Regions from separate parts of the Homo sapiens genome. Here region 1 is linked to region 2. The links come from fine-mapping of genetic effects on gene expression. Tissue or cell type: whole blood. Region 2 holds a variant in brackets; the other region holds the start of a gene. All regions are shown on one strand. Distances are between the middles of the regions.

Evidence for each region. PIP is the estimated chance that this variant, and not a neighbour inherited with it, causes the effect.
Region 1: RAB5A starts here. The variant in region 2 is fine-mapped to the expression of RAB5A in whole blood (TOPMed, PIP 0.97).

The regions. Positions count from the first base shown.
Region 1 is chr3:19,944,556-19,949,669 of GRCh38, reverse strand. RAB5A (RAB5A, member RAS oncogene family) reads right to left here and starts at 2,573. Exons shown (of 6, transcript NM_004162.5): 1 at 2,149-2,573. It also overlaps a transcript of EFHB not described here. RefSeq lists enhancers at 1,289-1,888, 1,935-1,984, 2,505-2,554, 2,416-2,585, 2,511-2,680 and 1 more.
Region 2 is chr3:20,003,497-20,008,709 of GRCh38, reverse strand. All of the region lies in intron 1 of PP2D1 (protein phosphatase 2C like domain containing 1), which reads left to right. LOC124909352 (a long non-coding RNA gene) reads right to left here. Exons shown (of 2, transcript XR_007095843.1): 2 at 414-618. It also overlaps the pseudogene SAP18P3. Among named protein-coding and RNA genes, the nearest start is that of PP2D1, 6.2 kb to the left of the region's middle. The variant C/T (reference allele first, on the strand shown) is at 2,091.

The DNA of each region.
Region 1 (5,114 bases), 59 kb after region 2:
GAATATTTGAAGAACCTTTTTCAATCCACTCACAAACCAATCTTAACAGTTTCCTTCTATCTTTAATCAAAATCCGAATACATGCTAATATATTAAACCTGATGATTCCCTCTCTAAAAACCCTGCTATATTTCATTTAGCTACCTCATATAAGAAATACGTCTTTCACACTGGACAGAGTGGCTTATACCGGTAAATCCCAACACTTTGGGGGTGAGGCAGGAGGACTCTGAGACCAGCCTGGGCAACACAGTGAGACCCTGTCTCTATATTAAAAACAAAAGAAAGAAATATGCCTTTCCCATAAAATGAGCTTATAATACGCTCTTCATAATGAATTCCCTAACATGTCCACGAGATCTTAGTTCTTAAGGCAATGAAACTACCTCCTTGCCTTAACTAAACACCAGCTTTTTAGAGTCCTTATCTTTTACCATTACATACTGAAATATTTACAGATTTATTGACGTAATATCTGAGTTGCTTCCAAATAACAAGGTATAAATAAAAATGCCCCCTCCTCCACAAACATACCAGATTTAGGGGTGTAATCCTGGCTATACCAATTTCCGTCTGGGCAAACTCTTTAATTTCCAAGTTTCTATTCCCATAATATCTAACTTGCATAGCTGATGTGACAATTAAATAAAACAATACATGTAAACAATCTCTAATATACATAGTAGGGATTGAAATTGCCAATAATGTGCTCCTTTGATAAGAAAATGATAAAATATCAATAGAACATCATATATACTGAAAATGCACCAATACATCTTCAGATATTACACACAATCAAAACATTTTCCATTTGTCTTTTTATTTAAGAAAACAAGAAATTACTTATCAAGGACAATATGCTCCAAATTTCTACGGCACTTCCAAAATTTTAGGGAAAATATCAGACTCCCATTAAAAAAAAAAATCAAACAAGATTCTGATTTCACTTTGACTTTTAAGGTTTAAAGCTACTTAATTGTGGCTACTCCCCCTAAGGATCTCAAACAGGAAATAACTAAAGTTAATGGTAAATATACACTTAGCATAACACTAAGGTTAAAAATTACGTGCATTCATTTGTATTCACTGCTTACTGAAACTTCTGTTTTGCAAAACAAGAATTTTGCATAATATACATTTGTAATCTTTTGAAAATAACTGTTATTCATTCTATAGTTAAAATCCTTCTAAGGGTTCTTTGATCAAAAAATTGACTGGGCACTTATTTTGTGCCAGGCACTGTTCCATTTACTTTGTTTATACAAATGCTGAGTTATCACTTCCATTTTACTTTAGGAATAAAGTTTATGAGCAGTCTTGAGTATTCCCAGAGGTGTACAAGTGTTTTTTTCTTATTATGTGAAAGGCAACTGATTGAACGCTTTGATTCCATTTAAGCAAGACAAAAACCAAGTATGTGAACTATGACGTTCAGAACTTAACAAGTTTGAAAGTCTCAGAGGTAAGCAGCTTCCAGGGAAGATAACGCCAGAGCAAGTTCCATGGTCTCTACCCAGTGAAGGAGTTCAGCGGTCCTGTTATCTTGAATTTATTTAACGCTGTAGTTCACTACCTTCCAAACAGAAAACAAGTCTCTAGACAGCCTATTTTGACGAGCCTCCCACCCACCGACACTACTCATCTTTGGAAGTTGAAGATAGGCGGAGCTCCCCACATTGACACCTGCAGTAGGCCCAGGTTCCTGCTTGGAGAGCACCTGAGTAGCTAATAGCCAACTACAGATCGCCTGGATAAGCAGCACTCGCCAGGTCCCTTGGCCTTTCCAACCTCCTCCCCCGAACCTGCCTTGCTTTGACCGAGACCCCCAGGACTGCCAGGACGGAGACCAGGCGGAACCGCGGCCTCCAGTACACTTTCCACGGCGCCATCTTGAGAAGGGAAAGGGTGACACCCGTCGCTCCCTCAGTCAGTCCCCAAATCCCGGTCTCCAGAGCCCCTGGAGGATGAGTCACCAGGGCTGGCAGAACAAGACGCCGGGTTCGATAGTTCTCTGGTCCAGGGCACTGCTGCGCGTGAGGGAGAAGGGGTGGGGGGTCTCAGTACCGGCAGGGCCGCGGACAGGCTGGGGACCGCGGATAACCTGGGGTCCAGGCCCCCGCTGCGCAGGAGGAGGGGCGGTTCGGTTACCTGAGACCGCAGCAAGCCGAGCTGCGGGGCCGAAGCTTCCTGGCAGCAAGGCCCAGGCGTGGCCCGTAGGATGAGAGTGTATCTATGGCGGTGGTGGTGGCGGCGGCGGCGTCGCCTGCTCTTAGCGCCGCTCCCCTCACACTGGACTGTGCGGGGCTCGTGCCGTGGTGCCGCCCCTGTCGGGCTCCGTCTCCGCCTCTCGCCGCTCCCCCTTCCTCTTTCCTTTCTCCTCCTCCGCCGCCGCCGCCGCCGCCGGCGCTGGAGTTCCGACTAATTCTTCCTCCTCCTCCTCCCTCTGCCTCCTCCCCTAAGGCCAGCCGCCGGCTCCTTCACGAACCAAAACACAAACACTCAAGTCCCACCGCCGGAGCCACTTCCGCTGCCCGGTGCCGGCCCCGCCGCCACGTCGCTGCACGCAGCGAACTGCGCCACTTCGTCACTTCCCATCATCGCCAGTCCGCCTGCTCCTTCCGCTTCCTCGCCCCTTCCCGAATCCCTCCCCGCCTAGGTTTGTTCGCGGGGCGGGGCGAGGCAGGATGTCACGTGACCCTGCGAGTGGCTCAGATCCGAACTGGCCGCCTTTCTCCCCTTCCCCCACCCCAGGTACGCGCGGCCACGCCCTCTCCAGCGCCATTGTTATTTAGGCTGGGGGGTCTCTGGGCTCCTGGCGGCCGGGGTCGGGGGAAATTCCTTTACTATTCTTTGGGGGAAGATCAAAATAACTTGTGTTTTTTTGTTTGTTTTTTGTGCCCAGCCCTTGTGGGAGCGGCGAGGTTCCCTAACCCCAATCCTGGCATCTCGGCTAAGGGGCTTTATTAGAGGGAACTTGTCTAGCACGAGAGAACCTCCTCCCACAAAATGGCCCTGGGGTTGGGTAGGTCGGTAAAGGCTGCTAAATCGCATTTACCCCAAGGAGGAAGAAAGGACCCTCCCTATCCCAAAAGCCGCCTTTAGGCGCCTGACAATAAGAAGTCGCTTCTGTTAAGAGTTTACGTGGTTTTGGTAGGGGGCGGGGAAGGCCAAATCCTAAAATAGTGTCTGCCTTTTATTCAGAATTTCCCTTCGCTCTTTACTGTACTAAACGCTTTACAGGAATTATCCCATTGAATTCTTACACTCGAGTCTTTCATTCTGAAACTAACTTGTTAATCGTCTGTTCCCTACATTCGAATTTTAGCTCCCCTTGGTGGTCCTCACCGCTGTAAATCTATGTCTAGCCCAGTGCCTGGCAGCCAAGTCTTCAGTTCTAGTTGTAGATGTTTTATAGGTAAAGAATTTGAGACACAAGAGATTGAGTAACTTGTCCGAGATCACGGCTGTGTGGTGCAGAAGCTGGATTCTGATCTGCGGCGGGTTGGCTCCAGAACGTGAGTTGTTGAACACAATTCTGGTGAAAGACAACCCAAGATGTTCGTTACCCTCCACGGGGGACCTACTGAAGATGTGCTGCTTTAGTTGAATCCCACACCACATTCAGTCTCTGGCGAGGCTTCAGCCACCACCCCCTCCCCAGCCTCCGCCAAAAAAATTGTTTTGATAATTTAGTGGAAGAATATTAAATTGATTTTCCTTCAGAATAAAGGCTACTTTTCAGTTTGCAGTTTACAATGTATAGCTCTGTTGTAAGGGCGAGAATATTGTCTTTGAAGTGTACCGGGTTAAGGTATCTTATGGGCGTACAGTCGGCGGCATTGTGCAATTAAGATGATTTGAACTTTGAACAGCCCGTCTTTCAGATCAACTACCTAGTTGCCAGAAGAACGTAATGTGTCATACGTAAATGATACCTGTGGCATTTTATTCTCAAGGAGTTGTTCAATATGAACTATTAATCATGGTAATAGCTCTGGGACAATCCCAGGAGGAGTCAGGAAATAGGATATGTGACATCAGTTTTGTCATGTCAACAGTATGCCCAAAACGAAACCTATTCCACTCCAAACCTGCTTCTGCTTAGAGACTGGCATTAACATCCTCCCAGTCACCCAGACTTGGAACTGCAGAATCAGCTTCACCTCTTTCTTCTCCTCACAAACCATTGTCCATTCTATCAACAAATTATCTAATCCCCAAATTTGAAGTCTAATCCCAACACCTGGTCCATGGTAGTGTTTATATAAACTGAAATTAATGCATACTGCTGTTCTTTCTGTCCATTCTTTACATTTTAGCCACTCTACTAAAAAATGTTCAATGCTATGTCATTACTTGACAGTCTAAAGTTCTTTAACTCTAGTCCCAACCCAAGTTTCTTTCATTCTATTTCTATAGAATTCCTCTCCCCATACTCTTTATTTGTTCCCTGATCACACGTATCTGGTCTGTGTTCCCTGAATATTGCCTGTGTGTTGCCATCTTGGTATCTGATCACTTTATTTTCTCCACATGGAACACTATCATTGCCCATAACTGCTGGCTCCGTCTTAGCCAGGACACCAGTTCCTTTGGACCGCATCTGCAGATACTTCTACTGGATTCAATTATTATTTTTTCTGTAATTTCACAATACTTTGCCTTACTCTGTATAATGGCTGTCTTAAAATCTGCCTTATTTTAATAGCTAATGAGCACCTGGACTTTTCTCCTTAGCCTTTCATTGAATTATAAGGTTTTTAAGGGCTGTGACCATCAGTTATTCATCATTTCAGTTCTTCACAGAAGACCCTTGACTGCTATAATAGGGACCCCCAAAGTATTGGTGAACTTAATTACATTTAGAATCACGAACATTAAGAAGACCTCACAATGAAAAACATTTGATGCTGAAATTTATAAATTGCAAAAAACTCCCTATTTCATCGTTCCAGTATGTTGCTTCTTCACTCGTTCCTGTTTAGTGATTTTGTCTTCACCTCCTTCATGAATACTTTTCACAATATTTTACAGTTTAGTCATAATGTTTGCCTGGAAGAGTGCTGCCCTGGTGGCTGGCATTTCTAAAGATCCGGTAGTAGTTTTAGAGAAAT
Region 2 (5,213 bases):
GCGTGATCACAGCTCACTGCAGCCTCAACCTCCTGGGCTCAAGCATCCTCCAGTGTCAGCATCCTGAGTAGCTGAGATTACAGGTGTGAGCTACAGCGCCCGCCCAGGGACAGTTTTTTTGTTTGGTTGTCTTGTTTGTTTTGAGACAGAGTTTCACTCTTGTTGCCCGGGCTGGAGTGCAATGGCGTGATCTCGGCTCCCTGCAACCTCCACCTCCCGGGTTCACACGATTCTCCTGCCTCAGCCTCCCGAGTAGCTCGGATTACAGACATGAGCCACCACTCCTAGGTAATTTTGTATTTTTAGTAGAGACGGATTTCACCATGTTGGTCAGGCTGGTCTCAAACTCCCGACCTCGTGATCCGCCCTCCTCGGCCTCCCAAAGTGCTGGAATTACAGGCGTGAGCCACCGCGACCAACTTGTTTTTGTTTTTATTCAAAGTCTGAGACCGTAGGAGAAAGATGGCTGTGGAGTCGCACATTACCCAGAAGGAAATTAAGAAGGAGCTTCAGAAGCTGATCCTCACAAGCAGACAGGCCCGCTGCCGCCAGTAACAGCCGCCGCCACCGAATGGTCGAGTTCTCCGGATGAAACATACCGTCCAGCGTGCTGGCGACCTACACTTGGATAGATGCAACCTTGAAAGAACTGAGCTTAGTAAAATAAGTCTATCCAGAGGCTAGAAAGAAGGGCACACATTTCAATTTTATAGGTTTTTACAGATATTAAAAGATCTGGCTATCGAGTTAAGGAGATTGGCAGCGCCACATCTGGCAGAAAGGGGACTGGTGATTCCATGACCCCTGCAGTCACAGAAGTTACAACTAGGAGATTATTCGGACATAACGATTACTCCCACTCCTTCAGGGTTCATGAGGTCGTATTATATTCTATTTCCTATTTCTTTTATTCTCTCTCTCTCTTTTTTTTTTTTTTTTTTGAGACGGATTTTTGCTCTTGTTGCCCAGGCTGGAGTGCAATGGCATGATCTCGGCTCACCACCACCTCCGCCTCCCGGGTTCAAGCGATTCTCCTGCCTCAGCCTCCCAAGTAGCTGGAATTACAGGCATACGCCACCACGCTTGGCTAATTTTGTATTTTTAGCAGAGACGGAGTTTCTCCATGTTGGCCAGGCTGGTCTCGAACTTCTGACCTCAGGTGATCCGACAGCCTCGGCCTCCCTAAGTGCTGGGATCACAGGCGTGAGCCACCGCACCTGGCCTCTATTTACTATTTCTTGAATGTATTTTTCAGTCAGTTACGTAAAGTTACATGCTTTTTCCTCCCCTGAAAAAAAAATCCTAAGTCTACATTTTTCACAACAGAGTCAGTCCTCCATATCTGAAGGTTCTGCATCTGTGAATTCAACCAACTTTGGATAGAAAATATTCCCAAAATACCTCCTAAAATAATAATACTAATAAACCAATACAACAATAAAATAATACAAATAAAAATACAGTATAAGAACTATTTACATAGCATTTACATTGATTATGTATATTCTATCAAGAGATGATTTAAAGTATACAGGAGGGCCCGGGTGCGGTGGCTTACGCCTGTAATCCTAGGACTTTGGGAGGCAGAGCTGGGCGGATCACTTGAGTCAGGAGTTCAAGACGAGCCTGGGCCAACATGGTGAAAACTCATCTCTACTAAAAATACAATATATATACGTGTGTGTGTGTGTGTGTGTGTGTATACGTGTGTGTGTGTGTATACATATATATGTGTGTATATATATGTATATATATATACACACATACGTATATATATTTTAGGCGGGCATCTGTAATCCCAGCTACTTGGGAGGCTGAGGCGAGAGAATTGCTTGAACACAGGAGGCAGAGGTTGCAGTGAGCCCAGATCACACAACTGCACTCCAGCCTGGGCGACAGAGCAAGACTCCGTCTCAAATAAATAAATAAACAAGTATACGGGAGGGCCGATGCAGTAGCTCACACCTGTAATCCTAGCGCTTTGGGAGGCTGAGGCAGGGCGGGTGGATCACATGAGGCCAGGAGTTCAAGACCAGCTTGGCCAACATGGCAAAAACTCATCTCTACTAAAAATGAAAAAATTAGCCAGG[C/T]GTGGTGGTGCACGCCTGTAGTTACAGCTACTATGGAGGCAGAGGTGGGAGGATGGCTTGAGCCCAGGAGTTCTAGGCCACTGCACTCCTGGGTGACACAGTGAGGCAACATACAAGGAAGATGCAAATACTACGCCATTTATATCAGGGACCTAAGCATCCTTAGATTTTTGTATCCATGCATGGAGAGGGTGGTCTTGGAACCAAGCCCCACAGATACCTAGGGACGATGTATATTGTTTTGTTTTTCCATATTCAAACTTCCTGTGCATGACCTAGCATTTACTGAAAACATCAGATTTTAGGATGGTATGCAAAATGGGTCCCTACTTGCCTTCAGAAAATGTATTTGTTTATTTGTTTGTTTTTGTTTTTGAACAGTGTCTCGCTCTGTCGCCCAGGCTGGAGTGCAGTGGCTTGATCTTGGCTCACTGCAACCTCCACTTCCCAGGTTCATTCAATTCTCCTGCCTCAGCCTCCCGAGTAGCTGAGATTACAGGTGTGCCATCACGCCCATCTAATTTTTGGGGTACTATTAGTAGAGACAGGGTTCCACCATGTTGGCTGGGCTAGTCCCAAACTCCTGACCTCAAGTGACCCACCTGCCTTGGCCTCCCAAAGTGCTGGGATTATGCGTGAGCCACTGCACAGGGCCAGAAAAGATCTTATATTCAAATTTATATTTGGAAAGATAGATAACATAATTACTATTGGGGCTGGGGTTTGTTGCCCAGGCTGGAGTACAATGGCTTGATCTCAGCTCACCGCAACCTCCACCTCCCGGGTTCAAGTGGGGTGGGAAGACAAAAACATTCTTTTGTTTTCTACTTTGTATCCTTCTGCATTGAACTTAAGAACATGACGATGCATACCTTTTATAATAAAATATATTTCATTATTATTATCATATTGTCATTATAATTAAGTGGGTTAATTTCTTATCTAACTACCAACTATCTATAGAATATCAATAGATACTCAACTGTTGAATATCTATTATGTGTCTGAGATGTTTTAAGTACTTAGAGGCTCCAAGTATTCTTAGTGTCGTAGGCTCCATCCCTCATTACTCTAACACATTAAAAGGTACCCATCTCAAATACAATTTATATATGAACTGAGTTGAAGTTGACTAGTTTTTGTAATGTCACATTTCATAAATATTTATGGCTGGGCACAGTGGCTAATGCCTGTAATCCCAGCACTTTGGGAGGCTGAGGCAGGTAGGTCACCTGAGGTCGGGAGTTCAAGACGAGCCTAACCAACATGGAGAAACACTGTCTCTACTAAAAATACAAAATTAGCCAGGTGTGGTGGTGCATGCCTGTAATCCCAGCTACTTGGGAGGCTGAGGCAGGAGAAACGCTTGAACCCAGGAGGTGGAGGTTGCGGTGAGCCGAGATTGCGCCCTTGTACTCCAGGCTGGGCAACAAGAGCGAAACTCCGTCTCAAAAAAAATAAATTTAAAAAAAAAAATGTATATATAAAGTTATTTATTTATTTATTTTTGAGACAGGGTCTCGATCTGTAGCCCACGCTGGAGTGTCGTGGTGCAATCATGGCTCACTGCAGCTTCCACCTCCCAGGCTCAAGAAATCCTCCCACCTCAGCCTCCTGAGTAGCTCGGACTACAGGCATGCATACCATCACACCTGATTTTCTTTTTTTAATTGTTAATAGAGACGAGGCCTCACTATGTTGCCCAGGCTGGTCTCAAACTCCTGGCCTCAAGTGATCTCCCTGCCTTGGCCTCCCAAAGTGCTGGGATTATAGGTATGAGCCACTGCACCCAGCTAACTTTGATTTTTATCAAGTTTTAAAATATTTTGTAACCAAAGTATTTTTTTTTCTGGTCTCTAACTTTTCATAGGCCCTTGAAAATATCTCATGCCCTAGAAATTGTACATGAAATGGATAAAAATGGCCCCAGGTGCCGAGTACAGTACTAGATGTTTCTGATAGGAAGGCGTATAAAATGATGCCTGCTTTCCAGAAATATATCATCCAGCTCTACATCTTTTCTTTCCTATCCTCGCCCTGTACCTCTTTGTTGTAGTTTTTAAAAAAATTCTGTCCTTACTATCAATTCTTTTTCTTATTCTGCTGGGTTTTGGCATAATCCATTCATTTTCTTGTGAACTCTCTAATTAGAACACAAGTGTTTTAAGGCAGACGAAATGCAGTACAAAAGTAATTACAATCATGCATCATTTAACGATGGGGATACTTTCTGAGAAGTGCATTGTTAGGCAATGTCGCTGTTGTGTGAACGTCATAGAGTGTACTTACACAAACCTAGATGGTGCAGCCTACTAACACCTGGGCTATATGCTATAGCCTATTGCTCCTGGGCTACAAACCTGTACAGTGCGTTACTGTAGTGAATACTGTAGGCAATTGTAACACATGGTAAGTATTTGTGTACCTAAACACAGAAGAGGTACAATAAGACATTGTACAAAGAATAAAAAATGCAACATTTTAAAATAGGGGACTTACCATGAATAAAGCTTGCAGGACTGGAAGTCCCTCTGGGTGTCAGTGAGTGATGAGTGTGAAGGTCTAGCACATTATTGCACACTACTGCAGATGTTATAAACCCAATACACTTAGGTTACACTAACCTTATAAACTATTTTTTCTTCAATAATAAATTGATCTTAGCTTACAGTAACTTTTTACTTTGTAAACGTTTAAATTTTTACAACTTTTTGATTCTTTTGTAACATTTGGCTTAAAAGACAAAAACATTGTACAGCTGTACAAAAAGTACTTGCTTCATATCCTTATTCTAGGGGCTTTTTTCTGTTTTTAATTTTTTGATTAAAATTTTAACTAAAATTTTAAATTATTTATTTATTTATCTTTTGAGATGGAGTCTCACTCTGTCACCCAGGCTGGAGTGCAGTGGCGCCATCTCTGCTCACTGCAGCCTCCGCCTCCTGTCTCCTGGGTTCAAGCAATTCTCCCGCCTCAGCCTCCCAAGTAGCTGGGATTATAGGCATAAGCCACCACGCTCAGCTAATTTTTTGTATTTTTAGTAGAAACGGGGTTTCACCATGTTGGCCAGGCTGGTCTCGAACTCCTGACCTCAGGTGATCCACCCGCCTCGGCCTCCCAAAG